2 separate regions of the Homo sapiens genome follow, and region 1 is linked to region 2. Evidence: fine-mapped expression QTL. Tissue or cell type: whole blood. Region 2 holds a variant in brackets; the other region holds the start of a gene. All regions are shown on one strand. Distances are from middle to middle.

Region 1 (8,107 bases), 110 kb before region 2:
CTGCAATAACTAACAGTACTCCTCATGACCTAATCATGAGACCTCTTGAAGGTCTCAACTCTCAACACTGTTACAATGGCAATTACATTTCAACCTGAGTTTTGGTGGGTACATTCAAATCACAGCAGTCCTCAGCATAAGCAACTTGGAAGGAAACTCTCACTCTGTCGCCCAGGCTGGAGTGCAATGGCACGATCTCGACTCACTGCAACCTCCACCTCCTGGGTTCAAGCCATTCTCCTGTCTCAGCCTCCCAAGTAGCTGGGATTGCAGGCATGCGCCACCATGCCTGGCTAATTTTTTACATTTTTAGTAGAGATGGGGTTTTACCATGTTGGCCAGGTTGTTCTCAAACTCCTGACCTTGAGTGATCCACCCACCTCAGCCTCCCAAAGGGCTGGGATTACAGGCGTGAGCCATTGCACCTGGCCTGGAAGGAAACTCTTTCACATTCTCTACATTATCAATCACAGGACAGTGTTGTGTTTTTTGTTTTTTTTTTTTTTTGAGACGGAGTTTCACTCTGTTGCCCAGGCTGGAGTGCAGAGGTGCGATCTCAGCTCACTGCAGCCTCTGCCTCCTGGGTTTCTTGGGTTCAAGCAATTCTCCTACCTCAGCCTTCCAAGTAGCTGGGACTACAGGAGCATGCCACCACTCCCAGCTAATTTTTGTATTTTTTTAGTAGAGTCGGGGTTTCACCATGCCAGCCAGGCTGGTCTCAAACTCCTGACCTCGAGTGACCCACCTACCTCAACCTCTCAAAGTACTGGGATTACAGGCATGAGCCACCGCACCCGGCCAATCACAGTGTTTTCAAAGTGTTAGTCACTTGCCTCAGATTCACCTGGGTGCTGGTACAAATGCATATTCATAAGGTGGAGCTCAGAAATCTGGTTTTTAACAAGCTCTCTAGGTGATTCTTCTGGGCACCGATGTTTGAGAATCATGGGGGAAGCAATATGTTTAGCAAATAATAGGTCCATAATAACTATTTGATGATGATATACTATGCCCTTAGTAACTTCCAAATGTCTCTCATGTGCTGAACTTTCTTCTGTGCCTTAACCCTGTGTTTTCGACCACTGCCTATTCTTTGAGTTTTTTTCATCCCACACTCATTCAAAACATTCAAAACTAAACCATCTACTGGACACCTCCAATCTTGTCACTACGTTATTGTTACCCAGAAGTCATGTTTGGAGTCATTTCTGTTTGTGTTTCATCATTTTTACTTAATCAACATATTGACCATTGTGTCAAGCACTGATATAGACAGTGATGAATATGACAGATATGGGTCATACTCTCAAGGATGGTAAAGACAGTTTTACAGAGAGTAATTAAACTTTATACCATCAGTTCCTTAGTGTTTTTCTCAGAATATTCCCTTTCTTTGTCACCATCCTAATCTAGAATCTTATCATTTACGCTCGAACTGCTTTAATTTTTCCTAGTCTTTGTTCCTAATTTCCCACCTCTTCTGAAAGATTAATCTCCTAAAAAATTAATCTTTAAAACATTATAAATGTTTTTACCCTACTTAATGCCTAATTTCCGTGAAAGCTGTCGTAATCAAAATGGAATTATATGGGCTCGGTGGTACACACCTACAGTTCCAGCTACTTGGGAGGCTGAGGCAGCAGGATTGCTTGAGCCCAGGAATTTGGGGGCTGTACTGTGCTATAGACTTGCCTGTGAACAGTCACTGCATCCCAGCCCCATCTCTTAAACAAAAGGGGGTGGGGGGCCCCATCTCTTAAACAAAAGGGGGTGGGGGGCCCCATCTCTTAAACAAAAGGGGGTGGGGGGGCCCCATCTCTTAAACAAAAGGGGGTGGGGGGCCCCATCTCTTAAACAAAAGGGGGTGGGGGGCCCCATCTCTTAAACAAAAGGGGGTGGGAGGTAGTCACTAATATATTTTTTAAAACACTGAAAAATAGATTCAGAGGTCATGAAGAGAAGGGGTCTCATGCTTGCACACCTGATGACAAAAACTATCACAAAAACCTGCAAAAGCCACAATCTTTTTTTTTTTTTTGAGATGGAGTCTTGCTCTGTTGCCCAGGCTGGAGCACAGTGGCACGACCTTGGCTCACTCCAACCTCCGCTTTCTGGGTTCAAGCGATTCTCCTGCCTCACACTCTCGAGTAGTTGGGATTACAGGTGCATGCCACCACACCCGGTTAATTTTTGTATTTTTAGTAGGGACAGGGTTTCGTCATGTTGGCCAGGCTGGTCTCGAACTCCTGACCTCAGGTGATCCACTCGCCTTGGCCTCCCAAAGTGTTGGAATTATGGGCCTCAGCCACCGCACCTGGCCAAAAGCCACAATCTTACACAAAAAATACTTCCGCAAAAACATCTGCCCAGCAACTTCCTGTCCAGTTTCCGACTGGTGTCACCTTGTTATTGATCTTCGTAGCCAAGGATAACGGTTTAAAAACAATTATGTAATTCTCATTTTTTTTTAAATTTTAAAAACCTTTGCCTTCCTTTACCTCCTTGAATACGCACGTAGTTTACTAAGTCATGAGTATTTTCACACTTTATTCCCAAATAAATATATAAGAATCATAGAATGATAGAATTGAAAAGGATAAAATCACACAGTTGTTTCTAACTCCCACCCCTTAGAATGCGGCAAATGAAAAAAATTTTTTTTTTTGAGACAGGGTCTCTGTCTCACAGGCTGGAGTGTAGGGATCTCCGCTCCCTACAGCCTCAACCTCCCCAGCTCAAGCAATCCTCCCATGTCAGCCTCCCGAGTAGCTGGGACTACAGGCCTGCTGCCACCATGCCCAGCTAATTTTTTGTACTTTTTGTAGAGACGGGGTTTCGCTATCTTGCCCAGGCTGGTCTCTAACCTCAGGTTCAGCCTGATCCTCACCTCCAGGCTCAGGTGATCCGACCCCCTAGGCCTCCCAAGGTGCTGCGATGACAGGCATGAGCCACCGCGCCCGCCTATAATCAATTTTCAATATTCTAAAAAAGCCTACCAGAAATTGTATATTTTCTGGTGGTATTAAATGCTAGGTTTCCTTGTTTTGTGCTAGAATTATATCAGATCCACAATAAACCTAGGTTCCGACTGAGCTGGGTCTGATTGAGCAAAATCTGTTTTCCCATTATTGTTATGTTCAATTTGGCAAACAGCTTTTCAAAATATAGGAGTGAAGTCGTGGTCGAACTAATAAAATTGGTAACACTTGCTACAATGTTTGCAATTCGCAGAAAACTTCACTGACTTCATCTTAACTTATTCCTCACAAAGCTGTGGAATCACCATCAGTAGAGCAGGAGTCGTTGGCTCAATGCAGTGCTGTCTGCAACCGCTCGGAGCTTCTAGGTTCTTTCCGTGGGTCTCCAGCTTATGAGCACCTACATTCCGCGATTCGGAAGCACCTGCCTACCCCTCAGAAGAGAGAGACAGCTCCTTCTTCCCGTTCCGGAATGTGGTGCGTTCGCACGCATGCGTGACACGGCTACTCCGCGCTTGCGCCGATATTCTCCGCTTGGGGCGGATACCCTGGGTGACCCGTGAGCGTCCGCGCCCGGCGCGCGCCTGCGCAGTCGCTTTTCGAGAGTTTCCGCCCGCTACGTTCCCGTCTTTCAAACCACCCCACCACCTATACCATTCATTCCAGTCTCCTCAATTCTTTCACTGTATTAAGACGGCCTGCCCTCTGGCACGTTTTCTGGAACGAAAGCGGCTTGGGACAGACAGACTCCCTTCGCCAGGGAGCCCCGACCCCGAGGGCGCGCCCTGAGCGTCTGAGCGCAGCCCCGCTGCGTCCCCAGTTGTATCCCCCGCCACGCCCGCCTCTTCCGCCGCTCGCGCGCGCGCGCACGGCCGGCCACGGCGCGCCGGGGTTGGCTGCTACAGGGACCGCGGTGGCGGCGGCGGCCTCGACAGCGGTAGTGCCTTCTACTCCGCTTTTTTAGTTTCCTCCGCCCCCTCCCGTGGGACGCTGTTGTGTGGCTGCCTTAAAAAAAAACGCAACTTTATTGTTCCTCAGCCCCACCTCCGGCTCGGCGGGCGTCCTCAGGATGCACTGAGGCTGAGGGGAGGGGAGGCGGCGGAGGGTCGAGGTCGCGGTCCCTCTCCTCCGAGCGCCCGGCTGGAGGGGAGGGAGTCACGATGTCTGGTAGCCGCCAGGCCGGGTCGGGCTCCGCTGGGACAAGCCCCGGGTCCTCGGCGGCCTCCTCGGTGACTTCCGCCTCCTCGTCTTTATCCTCTTCCCCGTCGCCGCCTTCCGTGGCGGTTTCGGCGGCAGCGCTGGTGTCCGGCGGGGTGGCCCAGGCCGCCGGCTCGGGCGGCCTCGGGGGCCCGGTGCGGCCTGTGTTGGTGGCGCCCGCCGTATCGGGTAGCGGCGGCGGGGCGGTGTCCACGGGCCTGTCCCGGCACAGCTGCGCGGCCAGGCCCAGCGCCGGCGTAGGAGGCAGCAGCTCCAGCCTAGGCAGCGGCAGCAGGAAGCGACCTCTCCTCGCCCCCCTCTGCAACGGGCTCATCAACTCCTACGAGGACAAAAGCAACGACTTCGTATGGTGGGTTTGAAGAGCACTCCCTCCTTGTCCCTAAATTATGAGTTTCTGCCGCTTAGGCTTGGGGGCGGGGGGTCTGGTGTGGGGGTGGCTTGTTGGAGAGCTTGGGATACTGGTGCTGTGGTGGTGTCTGCAGAGGGAATCGAGCGTTTGCAGGCATTCGAGCTCCTGGTTGGTGGGGTGAAGGAATGTTGGAGTAGCGAGGCAGGGTGGGGATAATAAAGAGGTAGGTAAGTGTTGCTGAGGAGGAAGTGAAGGGAGTTTAACGAATGACGAGGGAAGAGGTGGAAGGTCAAATAAATGGTTTTGGATAACAAAGTTGGCAGAGAGGTTGAGTCTTAAAATTTTTGCCTCTCTGATGAATTGAACACTCAGTCAATCAGGAGTCCTTGTTGAGATGAATGAAATTTGCAAATGGAGAGGACTAAGCTTCCTCGGATGCAGAGGGGTGGAGTTGGTCAAAATTTATTTGAAGTATGGTAGATGATGCTGTAAACATAAGCATGGATGTCTTATAAAGACATGCTTTTTATAATAATGTAAGTACCTATCGTATGTATGTGTAAATATCTTCTTCCATTTCAAAGGATGGGCCACTTAGGAATCGGCTGTTGAGACGACTGTAGTCAAAGTCTGTTAACAGATTTTTCACTTCTCCACCAAGTGTCTTGAAAAGAGAGAACCACGTTTGTTAAATAACATCCCTGTGTCAGATGTAACTGTACTATACTGGATAACAGAGTATACTGGAACTTCTGACTTGAGAAATGCTAGGTATAGACATTTTGTCGTCATAGTTGGCATCTTGAATGATACAGAGTAACATTTAGTCATGACATTTGGGATAGAGAGGTTAGTCATATGAAGTGAAAGGTGGTGTTGATTGTCTTGCTTGAGAGTGTTTTGGAATTTTTATTGGATTTTAGATATTGGTAGGATTATGAGAAGTAATTGCTGTTAGCTAGCTGCTTAAGAAGTGGTAGTGTTTCGTACTTTCCTTTTTGAGGAAATTGTTGATCAAATATTAGGCATGTAGGAAGTTGGCTGCTTGCACAGTCATTATGAGGGAAGTTGATTCAGATCAGGGTTGAAGATGGTCTGAGTTGGTGTTATTAAATAAGATAGAGCTAGAAGTTGGAACTGTTAGGAAAGTTATTGATTAGACTTACGGTTTCTAGTTCCTGCAGAAAAATGATGTCTTTATTCACCTTTCTGCTTTTTTGTACGTTATTCTTTATCAGAATTAATCTGTTTTTCATTGAACATTTGGGCTGTAATATGATTGTTATTTATAAATAAGCAGTTTATGGTTGGGGCTGAGAAGTGTTTGCACTTCTACACAGTCGATAGTGCGAGTAGCTAATAAGCTAATAAAACAAAGTGGGGTGTGCATAATTTAGTTGTCTTTTTAGCCACTGTTTGCATTTTAATTTTTAGTATACTTAACGAACACAAACATGTTAGCCTCCGTGTAAGTACACTAAAATAAAGTAAAAGATGTGAGGAATAAGGAATCGATCATTGTCATTCAAGAGATACTTGTATGACATTCACTGTCGGCCAGGCACCATATGAAGTTCAGTGCACTGCAGGCTATGCTATAGGGAATTGGGAACTCTTTTTTTAAAAGAGTAAAAATTTGTATTTGAGACGGAGTCTTGCTCTGTCACTCAGGCTGGAGTGCAGTGGCACCGTCTTGGCTCACTGCCACCCCCGCCTCCCGGGTTCAAGCAATTCTCCAGCCTCAGCCTCCCGAGTAGTAGCTGGGATTACAGGCACCTGCCACCACACCTGCCTAATTTTTTGTATTTTTAATGGAGACGGGGTTTCACCATGTTGGCCAGGCAGGTCTTGAACTCCTGACCTCAGGTGATCTGCTCGCCTCGGCCTCCCAAGGTGCTGGGAGGGATTACAGGTGTGAGCCACCGTGGTCCTGAGTATTTCACTTTCTAAGAATCTCATTAGTTAATTATTTCTTTTTCTGGTGAGGTTTAATATTCAGAAGAATTAATTAATGAGAATCTGATTTAAAACTCAAGCCAGGTTTGATTTTGTCCAGACTCTTGGGGTAGGATGATATGGATTAGGCAAGGCCCAAGGAATCCTTTTTTTCTTTTTTTTTCCCCCCGTTTGGCTGTGGGTCTTGTCTTGTATGCCCCAAGGTCAAACTGTGAACCAATTCAAATTATTCTATGCTTTTATATTTAAACGAAGCCCAAGTTCAAATAATGATAATTTCTTATTCATTTATGGGACATTTTAAAGATATGCTTATGCTTCACGTTTTATTTTATCCTTAGAACAATTCTGTGATGTTATATATAACTTATTTTTAATACAATACTAATTATTTTCTCATTGAGGCACAGAGAAGTAATTTTGTTTGTCGTTGGACAGGTAAGGACAAAATGAGAACTCAGATTTCCCAGTTCTCAACTTTGTGTTTTCTTTGTGTGCAATTAGAGAGTTTCAGATCTGTAAGTTCGAGTACATGTATTTAGCCCAGTGGTTCTTAAACGGCACAGATTGGAGGAGAAGCAGCTGTTTCATAATCATATGAGATAAATGTTTTATCCCTCACCACTCCCTTTTCTTACCTGCCCACATCCCAAGAAGACGTACCTGAATTGGAGGCTGGGGTGGGTGGTGTAATTTGCATATGCTCCCCTGGTGATAGGGACCTGTCCTTCTCCCCTCCTTGAGAACTGTTGATTTAAATAGTCACGTACCTAATTTCAGTAATAAACATTGGCCTCTCCTGACTTATATTTGAAAGTAAGTTTATATTTAATTGAAGAATTCATAAACATTTTAGGGGTTTAGGTTGCATTTTTATATTTTATTTTACACAAAAGATTGAAGGTATTATCAAGTTGAATAATTTTAACAGTGTTTTATTGATGGAGAATCTAATACAGGACAGTAGTATTTAGCTTGACATTGGATACATTTTCAACATTCAGAGGAAGTCTTTGTTATTTTGTTTTTTGCAAAATTTTCTTACGGTTCATTTAACTAGACTGTGAGTCTGGTCTGTATTTGAAAGATGACTTCTGTTTTTTATACGGACTCCTTTTTTAAACAATTCTATAACTACTGCCTTTGTATTAGCTTTTCCAGCTATCTCAAATGAAGTTTTCTACCTCTGCAAGTCCCAGCCATTCTTGCAGCAGAAGTATACGTTTGCATGTAGATAGTAAGCTCTTTATGAGAAGGTTGACTTTTTTTCTTTTTTTTTGAGACGGAGTCTCGCTCTGCTGCCCAGGCTGGAGTGCAGTGGTGCGATCTCGGCTCACTGCAAGCTCCGCCTCCCGGGTTCACGCCATTCTCCTGCCTCAGCCTCCCGAGTAGCTGGGACTACAGGCGCCGGCCACCCCGCCCGGCTAATTTTTTGTATTTTTAGTAGAGGCGGGGTTTCACTGTGTTAGCCAGGATGGTCTCGATCTCCTGACCTCATGATCCGCCCGCCTCTGCCTCCCAAAGTGCTGGGATTACAGGCGTGAGCCACCGCGCCCGGCCGAGAAGGTTGACTTTTAATCATCTGCTTGATAGAAAATAGTTAGGA
Region 2 (8,107 bases):
TTAAAGCCAAGCCCAGCCATCAGTTTGTATCCTCAAATGCCTGTGAGTTGGGTGATCCTGCTCTCTTAACGTCTCAAAATAAACTTGGAGCTCTGGGCCTGTAGAAGGTGACATTCTTTACTTATCACAGGTCAGGAACCCTCTACAGCAGCTGTGTAGACAAGGGTATGAGGCCATTTTTCCCAAGGGGCTTTTATTGGCTCTGCAAGTCGAGCTTGACTCCTTAAAGGGAAGCATACCCTTCAAGTTAAGCCTTGGTAAAACAACATTTCTCCAGTTGCATCCAGTTGCAAAAGAAAATGGATTCTTATTGCACTGATGTAAACAACTATATTGCCATAAGTTAAGAACACTTACAACTAGTTTCCAAATTCTGGAGAAGCCAGGGAGAGAGAGAGAGAGAGAGAGAGAGAGAGAGAGAGACAAATATGCTCCAAATTTTTTTCACAGGAGTGTGCCATACTCATTTATTAAAGACTGTAAATAGTTCAAAATAAGTTTCCTTGACTATGAAAAAACAAAACAAGGATCAGCAATATTCCAAGCAAAAGTTAAAAAGATTACCTCAGTTTTTGGTGAGTTCAGTTCATTTAGTTAACTCTTATTTTGCTTGATATTCATCAACATTTTAGTTCTTCATGAGTCCTGCACGTTTTTCCTGTATTGTAATGTTACAATCTCCAAAGTTATTAGAAACCTGTATTTGAGAGTACCTGTTAGAGTCCTATAGCTTGTTATAAGCCATTTTTTGAAAAGGATCAAAACAAGACAGCAATTGTCTGTGAATAACAAAATGTCCAGGGTAGTTACAGTTAGAAGCACAATTGACAAAGTAGTTTGATTATCTCTGTGGTTTACAATAACTTAACATAACAACCTTAATTATGATGGATAGCATATACTTTAGACATTAGAATTTTTGGAATCCCATACAGTTTTGAAACATATATTAGTAGTAGTCACCAAAATATAACCTAAAGAAGATTGAACACCATTTTGGCAATCTCATGTAAGTAAACGTGTTCTGTTTACCCCTCATTTGGATACTCCAGGGACTCTCTGCAGCATCCAAAAGCTAGGCATCAGGAAAGACAATTTTGAAACTGAAGTTTGATTTTGGGAAGCCTGTTAAATATGTTAGAGGTTTAAAACACTTGATGTTATGAAATAGAATTCCAAATTATTCCAGGTAAGTTATTTATTTTGCCAAAATGATGACTCAGAAATTTGAAAAACAAAAATCTTTTATAACCCTTTACAAATTTTCCTAAAGAGCAGATTAGTTCCTTAAGAGTACGTTTTTCTGCTTTTATTTCAATGCTTAGTTTACAGAAAAACCATATAATGCCTTTTTGAAGTTAGTCAATATGTTAACACAGAGAATTTATTTTGGAAGATTAATTTTTACAATCCTTCCATCACTTGTTTGAACTTTTAGCTTTTTTTGTTTGTTTGTTTTTTGAGATGGAGTCTCGCTCTGTTAAACTTTTAGCTTTATCTTATCTAATTCAGAACAATCCTTAGACCCTAGGCAAAAATTTACATTTCCACACCTTCTTATAATCTTTTATTAAAAACACATCATAACACACCTCACATGTAAATCTATTTCCAATAGTTTCAATTACATATTATAATGGTAACTCTTAGCAATTTTACCTTTAAAACCTGGTAAATTGTTTTAATTATTTGCTTGGTGCAGCCAAGGTTTGACTTCTTCCAGCATAATTAAGGGCATGGTTAGTTCCTTATGTCGCCAGGTTTTACCAAATGTGGAGCCATCAAGTTAGATCGTTCTCAAAAACCAAAAAAGGCAGGTTATAACCTTAAAACATTTAGCAAACCTAATATCTGACCTATATAATTTAGTTTACCTATTTACATTTTGATGACATCTGTATTTTACCAATAATCTTTAAGGCTGTTTTTTATTTCTTAAAGATTAAAGTCACGTGAACTGAAAGGCACTACAGCTTTTATTTTCCTTTTAAAAAACATTTGATCAAAGTGTTTATCTTCCTTTAGGCCAATTAATTAGAGCTTTTTTTTTTTTTTTTTTTGAGATGGAGTTTCACTCTGTTGCCCAGGCTGGAGTGCAGTGGCATGATCTCGACTCACTGCAACCTCCGCTTCCCATGTTCAAGCGATTGTCCCGCCTCAGCCTCCCTTGTAGCTGGAATTACAGGCATGTCCCACCACACCTAGCTAGTTTTTGTATTTTTAGTAGAGATGGGGTTTCACCATGCTGGCCAGGCTGGTCTTGAACTCCTGACCTCAGGTGATCCACCTGCCTCAGCTTCCCAAAGTGCTAGGATTACAGGCTTGAGCTGCTGCACCCAGCCAGTCTATAAAAAAAGCTCTATAAAAAAAAGAGCTTTTTTATAGACATCACACACACAACACATATATATGTACACAGATAGACAGAAGAAAACCCAATTGCCATAAGATCTTTCATTTGCCAGTCTCCTAATTGAATTAATGGTCTCCAGGTGGAGCCTTTAAGAGACAGGGCTAGGAAAACATTCAGCTTCTAAGGCCTAACAAACAGGCATAAATGAGGCAAAAACAGATTTTGAGAGGGATCTATTTGCTTTTAATTACTGGTGTTCCATGAGGAAAACAGAGGTCTCTTCCTTCTCATGTGTGCATTGAGAGTGGCAAGGAAAAATGGAGAAAAATAATTCAGTCGTTTTTTTTTCAACAAAACAAGGTCCTAGAAGAGAAAAACATAAAGACCTTTTACCTATGCCTACAACTTGGATATCTACTTTTAATTAAGCTGAGTGTTCTTTAAGAAAATCCTTTTAAATCCCCTATTACCTGACTTTAGCCATCCCAAGTGGCCAATATTTCTGGCTTTCAAACTTTACTAAAGGCTCAAAGAAAGTAAAATCCAAGGCATTTCGTGGAGGGGAAGAGAATCAACAAATAGCAAAGGTTGCACAGGTATCAAACCAAAAAGGACTCATTCCCTAAGCCAGGATCGAACCCCGGGCCACAAATGTAAAATGGCAGAGGCTAGAACAAAACATTGTCATGTGGTTACAGGTCTGGCTCTGAAGGACGTAAAACAAGATGGAGGCCTGCAGCAAAGTTTGCTACTTACCATACAGAAAGTTATGTAAAGCAGACCAGATTGGCTACAGCTTAAGACCAATATAAATCCTTTTTCATAGTTAAAACTTTACAGAGAATATAAACAGTGATAGTTGGGGTCTTGGCCTTGTAAAACATTTTCTAAAAAGGAAAAAAAAAATCCTCTCACGTAAAAGTTAACTGCTAATAGGTAGAGAAAAAACAGTTCATAGTGTAAGGGTAACCCTGGGAGAAGAACCTCTTATTCTTATACAAATGGGTTCCTTTCCCCCTGGCTCAGACCAATGGTAGTCTGGCCAGTCAACCATGCAGGGCCCAGGCCCCTGAGGCCGCCTTGGGGCCTGGACAGTGGCTGTGGCTCATTCCCGCCCTGTGTGGTCGTTGGACACTGCACTCATGTGGCAGACATGGCCATGCACCCAAACCAGGAGGTAAGGGGAGTGGGGAGCTGCCATTCGCCCAACCATCCTGAGCCTGAGCCTGTGGCCATTTAAGTGGGTGTGGACCACCTCCAGTATTATAAAAGAAAAGATAGGTGCTGTTACTGTCCTGAAAAAAAAAGAAGAGGCATGCCATAGGACCAAAAGGCTCAGAAGCGAAAGTGAGAGGTTTTGGGTTCACATTTTACTCACCCTTCCTTTGGCCTCACATTGGGCAGCAAAAATGCTGCAGAACTCTCTCCTTAGTTCAGCTAAAACCAGGCTCTTGTCACACAACTAGGAAAGATTAGGCTTGTGGACACCTAGAAGGATGAGGAAAGTGGAATTTATTGGGTAAAAAGGAAAAATAACGCTCAGCAAAGCAAGAGAGAGTCCTGCTAGCAGATAAAGTACAGTGCATACTTCTCATTTTGTCACAGAATAGTAAAAAGGTATACATGCAAAGGCCTGGATTTAATGCAGGATTTAATTTGTGTGACCTTGTTAAGGGCATCCTTAAGTGAACTGATTCTTAACAGATTTTTATATGTTTTTTT[A/T]AAAAAAATTATGAATAGTAATGAAGAACAGTGTCTACCAGTCGGATTTGGTGCTGTTGCCTTTATTTGTGCTAAGAGACCAGCAGTCTTATACTGATCTTTGCTTTTGTATCACAAGTACAAACATAAGCACAAGGAAAATTGCAAAGAACATCTTTTTTTTTTTTTTTTTTCTGAGACAGGGTCTTGCCCTCTCACCCAGGCGGGAGTGCTGTGGCAGGATCTCAGCTCACTGCAACTACCTCCTGGGCTCAAGCCATCCTCTTACCTCAGCCTCCCCAATAGCTGGGACTGCAGGTGTATGCCACCATGCCCAGCTTATTTTTTTTTGTGTTTTATAGAAACAGGGTTTTGCCATGCTGCGCAGGCTGGTCTGGATCCGGACTCAAGCAATCTGCCTGCCTTGGCCTCCCAAAGAGCTGGGATTACAGGCGTGAGCCACCACACCAGGCTGCAAATAACATCTTACTATTTTTAAGAACATAGCTTTGTCCTCCCAGATTCCTGAAAAGATCTTAGAGAACTCCCAGTGGTCCTCAGCCACATTTTGGGGATCACACTATGATAACCACTATTCTAAATTCTGTAACTCTTTGCTTTAAAGCTAGTCATTAAATCTGCTTGTATGAAAATGTGTGTATGGGTTTAATAGTTAATTTGTTTTATTATTTTGTATGTATTCCTTGAACTTATAAAGTTTACTTATTGTGTAAATAATGATAGTTTTCCATGCAGTGTTAATTTATGAAATTAGTTTGAGAAAAAAGTATTTGTAGATTGGAAAAATTTCAGGTTTCAGTCAATCATACAGACACTTTTAGCTTCATTTGAAGTAGGAGTCTCCTCTTAGTGGAATTGACAGGGAACTTTGCCATGGTAAGTTACTTATTTTATTATACAAGCATTGATTTCATTAGTCTTTTGAAGATCTCATTGCTTTTGTACTCCGCTATTTTATATTAAGTATATGAAATAGAATATTCAGTTTTGCTTGCTGCTTTTCTGTTTTCATGTTAATTGCATTTATTGGGAATTAAAGTAGTTATATGTGTAAAGATTTTTCATAATTTACAGGCTGACCATAAATTATCTTTTTGTATGATCATCTAATTTGCTCTTTTATCTTCATAGTATGCCTATTAACTTTCTAGCATTTATTTGAGGACTTTTTTTTTTTTTTAACTTTTTCCAATGACCAAATAAGATATGCTTCTGTTTTTGCTGTGGTGAAATTTAATTATCTTTGAGTTTGCTAAATGTGATCATTTTTCTTTAGAACCAAGCTAGGTAAAATTAACATAGTTGATAAATATTTCTGTTTGATTTGTGTCGTATTTATATCTACCTCTAGGTAAAAGAGCTTATCTTGAAATTGTTTTATTTGAAGATTGGCCTTGTAGACTATCTGCATCCAATATGTATTTTCAAAACATTTATCTCTGCATACATAGCACATTTCTATTTTTTATATTAATATTATTTATAATTTAATAATTAAACTGGCATATGATGATGACCCAAGTGTTGCATATTTACCAACAATTATAAGGCAACCTAGTTGCTTGTAGAGTTTTTGAGTAAAGGATTTACTCTAGGGTTTTGAATAAATTTAAGAAATGTCAAGAATAAATACAGGAAAATAATTGAGAAAATGAGTTTACTATAAAAACTGGAAGCCAAATAAGTAAAACAAAACAGTGTTGCTGACTACTTCCTATTTGTTTTATATGCCCTGTTCCTGATTATTGTTAATTATTCTCATCTTTCAGGCTTTGAAGTCTTATCTGTTTTTCCGTTAAACAGATCACTTTTTTTTTTTTCCTTTTTTTTTTGAGACAGAGTCTCACTCTGCCTCCAGGCTGGAGTGCAGTGGCACAATCTCAGCTTACTACAACCTCCGCTTCCTGGGTTAAAGTGGTTCTCCTGCCTGAGCCTCCCGAGTAGCTGGGACTACAGGTGTGCGCCACCATGCCCAGCTAACTTGTTTTTGTTTTGTTTTGTTTTGTTTTGTTTTGAGACAGAGTCTCTCGCTCTGTCACCTAGGCTGGAGTAGTGGCTTGATCTCGGCTCACTGCAGGCTCCGCCTCCCAGGTTCACAGCATTCTCCTGCCTGAGCCTCCCAAGTAGCTGGGACTACAGGCACCCACCACCACATTTGGCTAATTTTTTTTTATTTTTAGTAGAGACGGGGTTTCACCGTGTTAGCCAGGATGGTCTTGATCTCCTGACCTCGTGATCTGCCCACCTCGGCCTCCCAAAGTGCTGGGATTACAGGTGTGAGCCACCGCACCTGGCCACTAATTTTTATATTTTGAGAAGGGGTTTCACTGTTTTGGCCAGGATAGTCTCAATCTCTTGACCTTGTAATCCGCCCACCTCAGCCACCGAAACTGCTGGGAGTACAGGCATGAGCCACCATGCCCAGCCAGATCACTTTTGAAGAGATCTGTAGGCTAAAATCTAGAATTACAATCTTAGTATTATTAAAAAATATGTTGGTACCTACAAAGGAATATATTTCATTAATATGTAAATTAGAAATATAGCAAAACTTTTATGGAACTGGCTTCTGTGTTAGTTATTTAATAATAGAATATTAAAAGTAGTATACAGGTTACTCATGTGTTCCTAACCAATTTTATCACCTGCTTCCTATCCAAATATAATTATTTTTCTGATATTTATGTTTATCAATATGTTGACTTTTAAAAAAGTTTTACCACATATATACACACCCCTATATTATTTGTTTTGGCTGTATTTGAACTTTATAAAAATATTATAGTAAGATTTCTGAGATTTGTTTTTTCAGAGATTAATTGCTGATGCCTGTGGCTGTAGTTGTCACTGACGTATAATATTCCATTGTGTTACTATACTACAATTTTTCAGTTGAATCTGTATACATTACATGCACTTCTAGGGTTTTTGTTGTTCTTGCTATTAAGGGCATCTTTGTACATGTCTCCAGATCCACAGGTGCAAGAGTTTCCCTAGATATGTACCTAGGAGAGGAATTAAAGGGCATTGGGTATGCAAAATTTGTATTTTGAGTTAATAACAAATTGTTTTCCAGTGTACTTTTATCAATTTAAAACTCCCACTACATGAGTGTATGAGTTCCAGGTTCTCAGCATTCTTGCTGATAATTAGTATTGTTGGACTTTAAAATGATTGTCACCTTAGTGGTAATAAATAGAGCATAGTTGCGACTTTAATTTTTATTTTCCTGCCACTATAAAACAGCACCTTTTCTTATATTTATTGTCCTTTATGTTTTGTCTTTTGTGAAATGGCATTTCAAGTCTTTCCCCATTTTTTTGTGTTGGTCTTAGAGAAATAGATATATTCTGGATACTAATCATTTGTTTTTGGATACTGCAAATATCTTCTTACAGTTTGTATCTTGTCTCACCTTTTTAATGATTAATTTTGGTGAACAGAAGTTCTTAATTTCTATGTCATGCAATTTATAATTTTTATATTAGTACTTCTTGTGTTTCATTTAAGAAATTCTGCCCTTTCTCAAGATTGTAAACATATTATCCAGTAACATATTACATGGTCAGTTTTTGTAAATGTTCTATGCATGCTTCAGAAGAATGCCTATTTTTAAATTAGGTACAGTGTTTTCTATATATTCATTATATCAAATTTTATATTTGGCCATATATAAACTAGTGTTACTTGCATAACACTAGTTGCATAACTCAGTTGACTTGCAGATTTATCTCCCATTGTGTTAATAGGTTTGTCCACTTCTCTGGCAATTTCTGCCTGAAAAATGTTAAGGCTCTCTTATTACATACAGATGGGTTATGTTAAATTGAACCTTTTCTCATATACAGTGGCTGTTTTCATCCATATTAATGTTTTTCATCTTGAATCTATTTTTTCTCTTTTAGTTAGTATTCTTTCATGTTATTCTAATTTTTTAGTTTGTCTCTGTTTTAAGTATTTCTTTGGCAGATAGCATACCTTTATTTTAAATCTATTATGTCACTATTTCTATTAGTGATTGTTTCCATTTAC

The links. PIP is the estimated chance that this variant, and not a neighbour inherited with it, causes the effect.
Region 1: it holds the start of COP1, and the variant in region 2 is fine-mapped to the expression of COP1 in whole blood (TOPMed, PIP above 0.99).

The regions. Positions count from the first base shown.
Region 1 is chr1:176,203,010-176,211,116 of GRCh38, reverse strand. It overlaps COP1 (COP1 E3 ubiquitin ligase), which reads left to right and starts at 3,831. Exons shown (of 20, transcript NM_022457.7): 1 at 3,831-4,545. The coding sequence starts at 4,139. It overlaps COP1-DT (COP1 divergent transcript), which reads right to left and starts at 3,452. Exons shown (of 5, transcript NR_185981.1): 1 at 3,246-3,452. RefSeq lists an enhancer at 3,224-3,293 and silencers at 3,794-4,003, 4,034-4,393.
Region 2 is chr1:176,091,822-176,099,928 of GRCh38, reverse strand. The region is part of intron 9 of COP1 (COP1 E3 ubiquitin ligase); the gene reads left to right. Among named protein-coding and RNA genes, the nearest start is that of COP1, 110 kb to the left of the region's middle. RefSeq lists an enhancer at 2,997-3,496. The variant A/T (reference allele first, on the strand shown) is at 4,076.